Regions from separate parts of the Homo sapiens genome. Here region 1 is linked to region 2. The links come from fine-mapping of genetic effects on gene expression. A gene starts in region 2. The other region holds a variant in brackets. All regions are shown on one strand. Distances are between the middles of the regions. Region 1 has its middle 18 kb from the start of LINC02346. Region 2 holds the start of ATP10A (ATPase phospholipid transporting 10A (putative)).

Region 1 (5,485 bases), 21 kb before region 2:
GAAGGAATAAAGGAAAGGAAAGCTCACTAAGGAACCAATAATGAGGAAAGTGTGAGCACAGCTAACATTCAAGAACAACAGCCGTTTGGAAAAATGGCTGCAAGTAACAATTAAAACAAGCAAATAAAAAAGCAACAAAGTACAATTTTTACATAATAAGTCAACAAACATAATGATAAAAACCCTGGGCTCCAGAGGCTCTGTGGAATCTGGTGCACTGTGCATACAAGTGAAGTCCCCACACCCTTTCCCCTCCAAGACACACACTTCCCCAAGCCAGGCGTAAGCACCCAGATCTGCTGGCACAGAATGGGGAGGTTGGGCAAGTCTGCGTGGGAAGGGAACAGAGATGAGGGCCTGGGAGAAAGCACGGGTGACTTGACTAGAGGCCTTGAACTTCCCCTCTCACTGGTCTTTTTCTTTAAAACAAACCCATTCACCATCCCTCCACCCCTCCATGTTCCCTGCTGCTCCTGATTGATGCAAAAGAACAAACACATTCATTTCCTAACAAACACCCATGTGGTGAGATAACATGTTGATCTGAACCGACATGCTTATCATTCCGTCTTTCCCCATGGCCTCCTTCCATTTTGGCAGCAACTTGAGGTCTTGTCTTACCAGCTCTCGAATGTTGGCCGGGAGAGGAGAGGAGACCCAGTGTTGGAGCTCTCAGCCTTTGCATCCCAAAATAGACTTTTGAAACTTCATGTGGAGAAAGAGAGACCTCAGGGAAGCTCATGATGAAAAGGCATTTCTCTCACCCACTTCATCCCAGACTTGACAAAGACGTCAGAGTCCAGGGAAGGAGGAAAGGAGAAGACCAACACAGATAATTCTATATGGCAGGCGGCCTAGCGTCCTGTCCTGCACCCACAAGCCTGATTGAGGGAGAAGGGACAGAGGGAACCCCCTTTTCCTTTCCCTCTTACTTGGCCCAGTCCCTTCCTGGCTTCTGCCTACCCCTGTCTTTGTTGCCTTTGATTCAGTGTTTTGTTACATCCGCATTGGTTTCACTATCTTTCATCAGTCCTATAACCTCTCTTCCCAACTCCTCTGCCTCCCTTTTTCTCAAAATCTATGCCTTTTTTAGACTGACGGTTCCTGCCTTACGACGGTTTGACTTAGACTTTTCAAACTTACTGTGGTGTGAAAGCAATACACACTCAATAGAAACAGTACTTTGAGGCCAGGCATAGTGGCTCACATCTGTAATCCCACAAGTTTGGGAGGCTGAGATGGATGGATCCCTTCAGGCCAGGAGCTCGAGACCAGCCTGGGCAACGTGGTTAAACCTCGTTTCTACCAAAAATACAAAAATTAGCCAAGCATGGTGGCGGCGGGCACCTGTGGTCTCAGCTGCTGGGGAGGCTGAGGTAGGAAGACGGCTTGAGTCTGGGAGGTCAAGGCTGCCACAGAGCAAGAACCTTTCTCAAAAAAAAAAAAAAGAAAGAAAGAAAGAAAAGAAAAAAAAAGAAAAGAAATAGTAGCTGGAGAACCCACACAACTGTTCTGTTTTTCACTTTCAACCGTATTCAATAAACTATCTGAGATATTCAACACTTTATTATAAAATAAGCTTTGTGTGAGATGACTTTGCCCAACTGCAGGCAACTGCAGGCACTCTGAGCATGGGTGAGGTGGGTTAGGCTGAGCTAGGATATTCAGCAAGTCAGGTATATCACATGCACTTTCTACTTAAGATATTTTCCATTGACCACTGGTTCATTGTGACGTAATCCCGTCATAAGCCGAGGAGCATCTGTATTATTACTATTATTATTATTGTTATTATTATTATGGTGTGTGCACAACAAATGTTTATCAGCTTCTCATTCTCTTTTCCCAATTGTCTCATTTTTTCATTTTTCAAATATTTATGGACAATCTACTATGCGCCAGTCATTGTTGCAGGTACTGGAGCTACAGGAGAGGACAAAGTAAACACAATTTCTATCCTTTCCCTCTCATGGACTTTATATTCAAATAGGCTGGGGGCGATGTAGAAAATGATATCAACACATAGACTGTAACACCAGGTGGTGATGAGGGCTCTGAAGATAAGTAAGTCAGGAAGAAGGAAGCTGCCAAACACAACTGGAGTAGTGTCAAAAAGGTACATACCACTAATCTCAGCGCTTTGGGAGGCTGAGACAGGAGAATTGCTTGAGACCAGGAGTTTGAGACCAGCCTGGACAACATAATAAGACCCTGTCTCTACAAAAAAAAAAAAACTTAAAAATTAGTTCAGCATGGCGGTATGTGCTTGTAGTCCCAGCTACTCAGGAGGCGAGGCAGAAGTATTGCTTGAGCCCAGGAGTTTGAGGCTTCAGTGAGCTATGGTCATGCCACTGCACTCCAGCTGGGGTGAGAGAGAGACCCTGTCTCTAAAAAATAATAACAAAATGAAATAAAAAGGGACTGACTTGGATGTCAGTGCATTAGGAAAGGTCTTTGAGAAAGTTGACAGCCTAATGCAGTGACAGTGGCAGTTAGACAGGCATCGATTGCTCAGACTCACAGATCTGCAGATTATTATGAGGCGGAATCCAATATGCTGTGTACAGCAACCACATTAAAGTAAGGTTATGCATCACAGCCAAAGGGCGTCTCCCAATAAGGGGCCAAGAGAGGTCAGGGCAGGCTCCTCATGCTCCCTCTGAAAGCACTTGGCCAGATGCACCCTCTCTCAGATCAGGACCTAGGAGCTACAGAGGCATGCACTAAGCAGGCTGTTAAAGCTGAACCAAGAAGCAGAGCCAAACTGGGAAGGTGAGGTGCAAGGGACCACAGAGACTGAGTGCAGGGAGCAGAGGCAGGCAGCGGGTGTTTGCGTGCTTTTTGTAAGTATTTTGGTTCATCTTAGTGTGTCCACTTAATGGAGCTAGAATAAGTCAGCAATTTCCATGTGATAGTCCATAATTAAAAGAAATAATACCATGTTGTTATAAGGAAAAGAGAGTTGAATAAGAGGTTCTTGGCTTCATTAAGCCAATTAGATCAGTTTCCTTCTGGGAAAGGCACAATGATTCCTACCGCACCAGAGAATTCAAGTGAACCCTGACAGCTCTCAGGATTAGGAAGTATTTGCTCAAGCATGGAAGTCAAGCTTCAGGGGTGGCTAAAGAATGTCTGAGCCT[G/A]ACTATGCAGATGCCACGCGTAACTAGACTGTGGGAGGATAGCATATATCGACAGTAAGTCATCCAAAGGGCTTCTAATTTTTGACTTATTATAAAAGCATACTGCACATTCCGGGAAGTGCACACATCATAATGTACAGTTAAAGGATTACCACAAAGTAAATACAGTCATGCCAAGAAGTAGAGCATTGCCAACACTCCAGAAGATCCCTTATGCTTTCCCCAGCCACTGACACCTTTCCTTCTTAAAGGTAACAACAAAAGTAAAAAGAAATGCAAAAACCCAGGCAACTGGCATTCTGTTCAGTTAATAGAATATTACAAAACCTCACAAAGTTCCCTTAAGACCCTTTCCAATCATTTTCCACCCCTCAATGCCAGAGGCAACCATTGTTTAGACTGTTTTCCAAGCTACATTAGTTTTGCCTATCCATGGACTTCATCTACATAGAATCAAACATTAGGGAGTCTTTCATCTCTGGCTTCTTTCACTCAGCATAATGTACTGTGATTCATCTATGTTCTTGAATGTATCCTTGATATTATTGAATAACAGTCCATCATATGGAAATAACACATTTTGTTTATCCATTCACTTGTCGATAGACATTGCAGTGGTTTCTAGTTTTTGGCTATTTTGAATAAAGCTGCAATGAACAACCATTTTATGTACATATATTTTCATTTATCTAGAGTACATGACTAGGACTAGAATTGCTGATCACAGATAAACATATTTCATTAAAACAGAAACTACCACACATAGTTCCATAGTGGTTGTGCTGATGCTGGACAGGCGAGCCCCCAAATTGGGGCTTAGCCTGGGAGGGCTCTTGGCTTCACCCAGGAAAGAATTCAAGGGTGAACCGGTGGTGTTAAACAGCAACTTTGATGGCAGCACAGTGCACAGCAGTAGCAGGGGGTACTGCTCCTTGTGAAGCGGGGCTAACCACAGGCAGTGTGCCCAGAGTAGCAGCTCAGGGGGGTTCCGCAGTCATTTCATACCCACTTTTAATCACAGGCAAATCAAGGGGTGGATTATACAGAAATTTCTAGAAAAAAGATGGTAACTTCTGGGTTGTCAGGTCATTGTCATGGAAAGGGGTGGTAACTTCTGGTGTTGCCATGGCAATGGTAAACTGACATGGCACTGGTGGGCATGTCTTATGGAGAGGTGCTTTTGCCTCTTCCCTGTTTCAGCTAGTCTTCAATCTGGTCTGGAGTCTGAGCCCCACCTCTGGAGTCAAGTCCCACCTCCCGCCTCAGTACCTGCTTTACACTTCCACCTGCAATGCCTGAGAGTTCCAGCTGCTTCACATTCTTTGCCAATATTTGGTGGTATTATTCCTTTTCACTTGAGCCATTCTAATCTGTGTGTAATTGTACCACCTGGGCCTGGAGTTTCCTTTATGGGAAGGACTTTGATTTTGTTTTTATTTCTATTTTTATTCATTTTAAATTTGAGATGGACATTTGGTCTGTTGCCCAGGCTGGAGTGCAGTGACACAATCATGATTCACTGCAACCTCGACCTCCCAGGCTCAAGCAGTCCTCCTGCCTCAGTCTCCCAGGAAGCTGGGACTAAAAGTGTTCACCACCATGCCTGGCTAATTTTTTAAATTTATTTTTAAGAGAGATGAGATCTCACTATGTTTCCCAGGCTAATCTTGAAATCCTGGGCTCAAGTGATCCTCCAGCCTAGGCCTCCCAGAGTGCTGGGATTACAGGCATGAGCTACTTACTGCACCTGGCCTAGGACTTAGATTTTGAATTTAATATCTTTAACTGATATAGAGCTATTCAAATTTTACCTTCATCTTGCACTGGTTTTGGTAAACTGTTTTTCAAAGAAATATCCTATAACATCTAATTTGTTGAATGTATTAGAAGTCCACTATGTTGACTTGTTGTTGTTTTAATAACTATATGTTGTAGTGTTGCAGTGAGAGTGCGATTTCATTTAACCTCCACTTTTTTGCTATCAGTGTCATATATTTTAAATTTGCATAAGTTAGAAACCTCACAATAGATTGGTATAATTTTTTGTTTAAACAATTGCTTGCTTTTCAAAGACATTCAGAAATTAAATATAATACAGTATCTTTTTTGGTTTATATTTACAATATCCAGTCTTCTCCACTTCTTTTCACCTGAAGAACTTTTAGCTTCTCCTCTAACTCAGGTCAGCTGGTAGTGAATTCTCTCAGCTTTTGTTTATCTTAAACTGTCCTTATTTCACACTGTCCTTATTTTTGACAGATATTTCTTCCTCGATATAGAATTATAGGTTGATGGGTTTTGATGAGAAGTAGCTGAATTTATATATAATTTCTCTCTATGTAACA
Region 2 (5,213 bases):
TAAAGCCACTTGATGCCACTTCTCAAAATCCTCCCAAGCTTTCCCTCTCGCTCAAAAGCCAAAATCCTCACCGGGATCCACAAGGCCCCACATGACCTCACTCTCGGCCACGTCTCCAATCTCCCACTCAGCTCCAGCTACCCCGGCTTCCTTGCTGGGCCTGAAATCCCTGAACGCTCCCTATCCCGCCCCGTGCTTACCATTTCTTCCCTAGGTGCCTGCACAGCTTGTGTCCCTAGGCCTCCGCTCAGTGTTGCTTGAGAAGCCTCCTTGGACCGCCCAATTGACAGGAGCAAGAGCAGGATCCCACCCCTCCCAGCCCTGGTTTCAGGTGTCCCTTCATTTTCTGAGCCATCTTTGTTGGGATTCCCACGTGAGGACTTAGTGTTCCGGGGAGCAGAAACTTACTGTGTTTCCCAGGTGTCCCCATTGCCTAAAGCAGAAGCTGTGGGGTTGAAGGTTTTAGAATGAGTGTGAGGCAGAAGCCCCACCTGTTTCTTAAACACATTGAGATTTCTCCTTCTTTGGGACCTTTTGACAGAGCTGCCCCCTCTGTCTGGAAGCCTCTTCCACCTGATCTTGTCCCATTCAGGTTTCAACTCCAGTGCCTCTCTTCGAAAAGGCCATCCCTCATCCCTTCCAAAGCCCTCCGTGGGCTCTCATGGTTTTTCGTTCAGTTGCTGCAGCTCCATGACAACATCTTGTCCTCTCTAGCTCTCCGATGAATTCCTGTGCCTGGAACATTGCCGGGCATACAGCAGGGGATGAGTAAGTATTTGCCGAACAAGGACACTTACAGTGGTTCTCATGGCCTATAGCAGGCCCTTGTTAGAGCCCTGTGGTGCAGATGGCCAACCCAGAGTTGACCAGACCACATCAGAGCCTCATCCTCGCCCCAGCAGGCCAGGGTCTCAGAGTCCAGCTGGCAGAAGACACCTGAGCTCAAAACCCCTCCACGATTCCCCAGATCACACAGCTTGGAGACCTTTCCAGAGGTGAGCTGAGCTAGGCCTTCCTGGAAATCCTGACTTTGCACTGGGGAAGAGCAGGTGGAAAAAGATTCCAGACTTGAGGAGCATTGTGACTCACAGAATCTTGGAACCTTAGAGCGGAATGTGGATGGGATGAGTAAGGACTGTTCTGAGAAGGATAAGGAGACCTCTCACCTTGGGGCTGGGCCTGAACCAGGGAGGGGCTGAAGAAAATCAGCAAGCTGGTTCCCCTCAGGGCCTCAAGGGACCTCTGCCTGAGGAATCAGCATTTGGCTTTGTAAGCACCAGGAGTACTCCTGGAAGCTCCAGGGTAAGCAAATGGAATGAGGCGGTAATTACTTTGGCAACAGTGTGGACTGGCTGAAGCTGGGAGTCTGGTAGGCGCGGACACCCCTGGAGACTTTGGGCGAAGGGTCCACGGGGATGCCTGTGAAGACAGGAGGCCGAAGTGTAGGGAGGCCGAAGGCCTCGGGGGTCACCAGGTGGGCTGGTAGAGGAAAACACGGAGCCATGGGATGTGAGGCCTCAAGACTGCAGGCGCTGTGGGCCTTCATTTGCAGTTGATGCTCCGTTTGGGTTTCTGCTGGTTGACTGTGAGACCTGACTCCTTTCCCCAACAATGCAGACTTCAGCCAAACCTTTCCCTGATCTGGGCCTCTACATGTCAAAAGCCCACCCCTGTGACTGGGGGATGGGATTATTTTCTTCACACCTGTCACCACTCTACCTTCTAACACTGGGTTCTGGGCAACATTGTGGATGGTGGCAAAACTGGGCAGAGATGTAAGAATGTCATAACTGGAGCCGGGTAAGCCAGGGTGCTGGAGGGGAGGGCCTCCCCAAGCCAGGGTCCTGGCGAAGACGTGATTTGAGTCCATCCAGGGCAGTGCCTTGTTAGCAGGCACCCCCAGGAAGAGCCTGGGGCCACGGCCAACCGCCCAGCCACGGCCTCCTGGGCAAGAAATAACTGCTTCTCATCTCTGTACTTCTTGAGTGGGAGGCAAACAGTCACAGCCATGAAACATCTGTGGGGTCTCACTGCGGACGTGGGGGACTCCCAGCTCCTTTTTCCATGCCGTGCTTATTCTCCCACCCCTTCTCGGATGCCCCATGATGTGGAGGGGAGCCCTTCGCCCCACACTTCTGGGACACCCTCCTGACGCTCCCCTCTCCTCCCCACAACCATCCTCGCCTCCCCACAACCATCCTCGCCTCCCCCGCCGTCCGGGCCATGACAGCCACCTCAGAGCTACAGCGCACAAGGAGCGTTTCGGTCCTCATGATTTCCCAGGGAGGGAAACAGACACTCAAATACCTGCAAACCAAATTCTGTCTTTGCTATAGCGATATATTTCTCCTTTCCATGAAGAAAGAACAGAAAAAAGAAAAAGAATTTATTTAGGAGAGGAAGGAAAGGCAGTAATGATGATGGTGGAAAGGAAACGGTCTAGTTCGCCCAACAACGGAATCTGAAAGTGGTGGGGGCTGGGAAGTGGGGTAGGAAAGAAGTTCTTAGAGGCAACGCGGAATCGCCCTTCCCAGGGCTCCCCAGGAGCAGAGGTCCTGCGTAAAAAAGACTTAAAAATTGGAGCACTGGATGCCATGGATCCTTTGGATTTTGATTCCAGTTGATCCCTGGAGTAAGGTCCTAACCGGGGTCTCCCGAGGTCGTTTCGCCGTCCAGGATGGAGCAGGTCTGGCCCCTGGAAGGGCGCGCGGGCTGCTTGGGGACGGGGGCGCCTTTTCTCGCGCTTCGCGGTTTCCTCTCTCCTACTGCAGGCAGCGCGCGTTTGCAGCGTTTTGGGACCGAACTGATGCTTCTGGGAAACGAAACTAAACCTCTCTGAAGTTTCCAGCTCGGGCTTTTTTTGTTTCCCGCTATCCGGCGTGGCCCAGTCCGGGCGCGGAACGAGGGCGGGGCCGTGGCCACCGCGGCGGAAACGACCCGGGCCGGGGGCGGGCGGCGAGGACAAGGGGGCTCTGTGCGGCACCCGCCCAGCTTGCGCCCTGGGGACTGCGGCCGGGCGGCGGGGCTGGACGGGAGTGGACGGGGCTGGGCGCGGGCTGGGCGCGCTGGGCCGGCCAGGCGGCGCGCTGACCGCGGTCTCCGTGCGTCCCGCAGGCGGGGAGCTCGCACCGCCGCGCCCGGGCCGCGAGTGATGATAACCTAAGAGGCCGGCGCGGGCGGGCGTGAGCGGCGGAGGAGCCGGGCGCGGCGACACGCGGCCATGGAGCGGGAGCCGGCGGGGACCGAGGAGCCCGGGCCTCCGGGACGGCGGAGGCGCCGAGAGGGCAGGACGCGCACGGTGCGCTCCAACCTGCTGCCGCCCCCGGGCGCCGAGGACCCTGCGGCTGGCGCGGCCAAGGGCGAGCGGCGACGGCGGCGCGGGTGTGCCCAGCACCTGGCCGACAACCGGCTCAAGACTACCAAGTACACGCTGCTGTCCTTCCTGCCCAAGAACCTGTTCGAGCAGTTCCACCGCCCGGCCAACGTGTACTTTGTCTTCATCGCGCTGCTCAACTTCGTGCCGGCGGTGAACGCCTTCCAGCCCGGCCTGGCACTGGCGCCGGTGCTCTTCATCCTGGCCATCACGGCCTTCAGGGACCTGTGGGAGGACTACAGCCGCCACCGCTCCGACCACAAGATCAACCACCTGGGCTGCCTGGTCTTCAGCAGGTGAGTTGGGCGGGCGGGCGAGCGAGCGCGCGGTGGCGCAGGGCAGGGCGCCCCGGGAACTTGGTGTTGGGCACAGTGATTGGCAGGGGCTGGGTGCTTAGAAGGCAGCTCCACTCAGGGTGGAGGGCCCGGCTGCGCGGGACCCGGTGCCGACCGAAGCCACAGCGCCGCCAAGGCCTCTCTGTGCCTCCGCCGCAGCTAAAGGGGCGCCCTGGATGCGGGGACGCGTGGGGATCCCCTGTCACTCCGTGTCGGGGCCAGAATGATCCCAAGGCTAGAAACCGACGGCCGCTGGACATCCTCATCCACAGCCGCTCCCACCTGAAGTGAAAGGCAGGAAAAGCCAGCCTGGCCCCCTGGCCTGAAGTCCCTGCCTCAGTCTTCGGCCAGGCACAGTGGTCTCTGAACAGCCGGCACAGGACAGTAAAGCTCAGTCTGCTAACAGCTCGGCTCAGGACAGCAGCAAAGTGAAACTGCCGCCAAGTGCTGATATGTCTGGCACGGCCCAGGTACCAGGGCAGGGGAAATAACAGCAGTGTCCATCCTCCACTGTGAGCCATGAGCCGCGAGCCAGGCACCGCCCGGTAGCTGCCTGCCTAATTTTCTTCATCTTAACCTGCTTCCTGGGGGAAAGAGGCTGTGGGGTGTTTGTGAGCCCTGCCACGGGCAGTACCAGGGGTGACCCTGCGATGGACCACTCCTGCTCTTTTTCCCTCCCTGAGTTTTAGAGTCTCCGGCGGACCTGTCCAGAGGCCTGCGGCCTTTTCATCCTTTATGCTCTCCACCCCAGGAGAGCCCCTTGGTAGATCCATCTTGGAGCTGTGTCCAGCAGCCTGGACCACCTCAAGGCCCTGTCCCTGAGAAAGGTGGGTCGTCTTAGCTTTCCTCCAAAGCTCAGCCCATCGTTACCTCCTGCCTCACCTTGCTTGACCCCGGAACAGGGACTGAGATGGGCTTCTGAATAGAACATTAGCGGTATCTGGCTTCCATTATGCATGGGGAGACTCTAGGAAGCCCTATGCTCTCTTAGTGGCAGATTGTTCCCCTAAAAGAGGAGGGTCAGAGTGGCTCCTGCCTCTTAAACGTAGGCATTCACGAATGCCTTAGACACAGGCACTCATAGCTTGGATGAAGCCATGGATGCGTGCCTCTGTAGTTGAGTACCTTTCACCCTCCCAGCAACACTGCAGTGGTTATGCTCCATATTTTTGTAAACAGAGTAAACGGGTTCAGAGAGGTTAAGTAAACCTGCCCAGTGTCACACAGCAGCAAGGTCGTGGTACTGGGATTTGACCCAGGTCTTCCCGCCCGCACAGCTTTTTGAATATTTCTTTGCTCGTGCTTCTGAAACTTTTGTAAGAGTCACTGAAGGCGCTTGTTAAAATTACAGTTTTCCAAAGTGTCTCACTCAGCAGGCCTGGGATTGAGCCCAGGAATGTATTAGATTAGCGTGCACGTAACTCTTATATGATGGCCCACACTTTCAGAAACACCACTCTGCCTGCTCCCAAGCCTTGCTCTTTGGCCAGTCAGCAAGAGTGACT

What was found.
Region 1: its variant is fine-mapped to the expression of ATP10A in esophagus mucosa (GTEx, PIP 0.96).

Annotation. Positions count from the first base shown.
Region 1 is chr15:25,881,776-25,887,260 of GRCh38, reverse strand. No RefSeq gene overlaps it. Among named protein-coding and RNA genes, the nearest start is that of LINC02346, 18 kb to the left of the region's middle. The variant G/A (reference allele first, on the strand shown) is at 3,141.
Region 2 is chr15:25,861,104-25,866,316 of GRCh38, reverse strand. It overlaps ATP10A (ATPase phospholipid transporting 10A (putative)), which reads left to right and starts at 2,990. Exons shown (of 21, transcript NM_024490.4): 1 at 2,990-3,669. The coding sequence starts at 3,221. It overlaps ATP10A-DT (ATP10A divergent transcript), which reads right to left and starts at 1,047. Exons shown (of 2, transcript NR_183988.1): 1 at 409-1,047.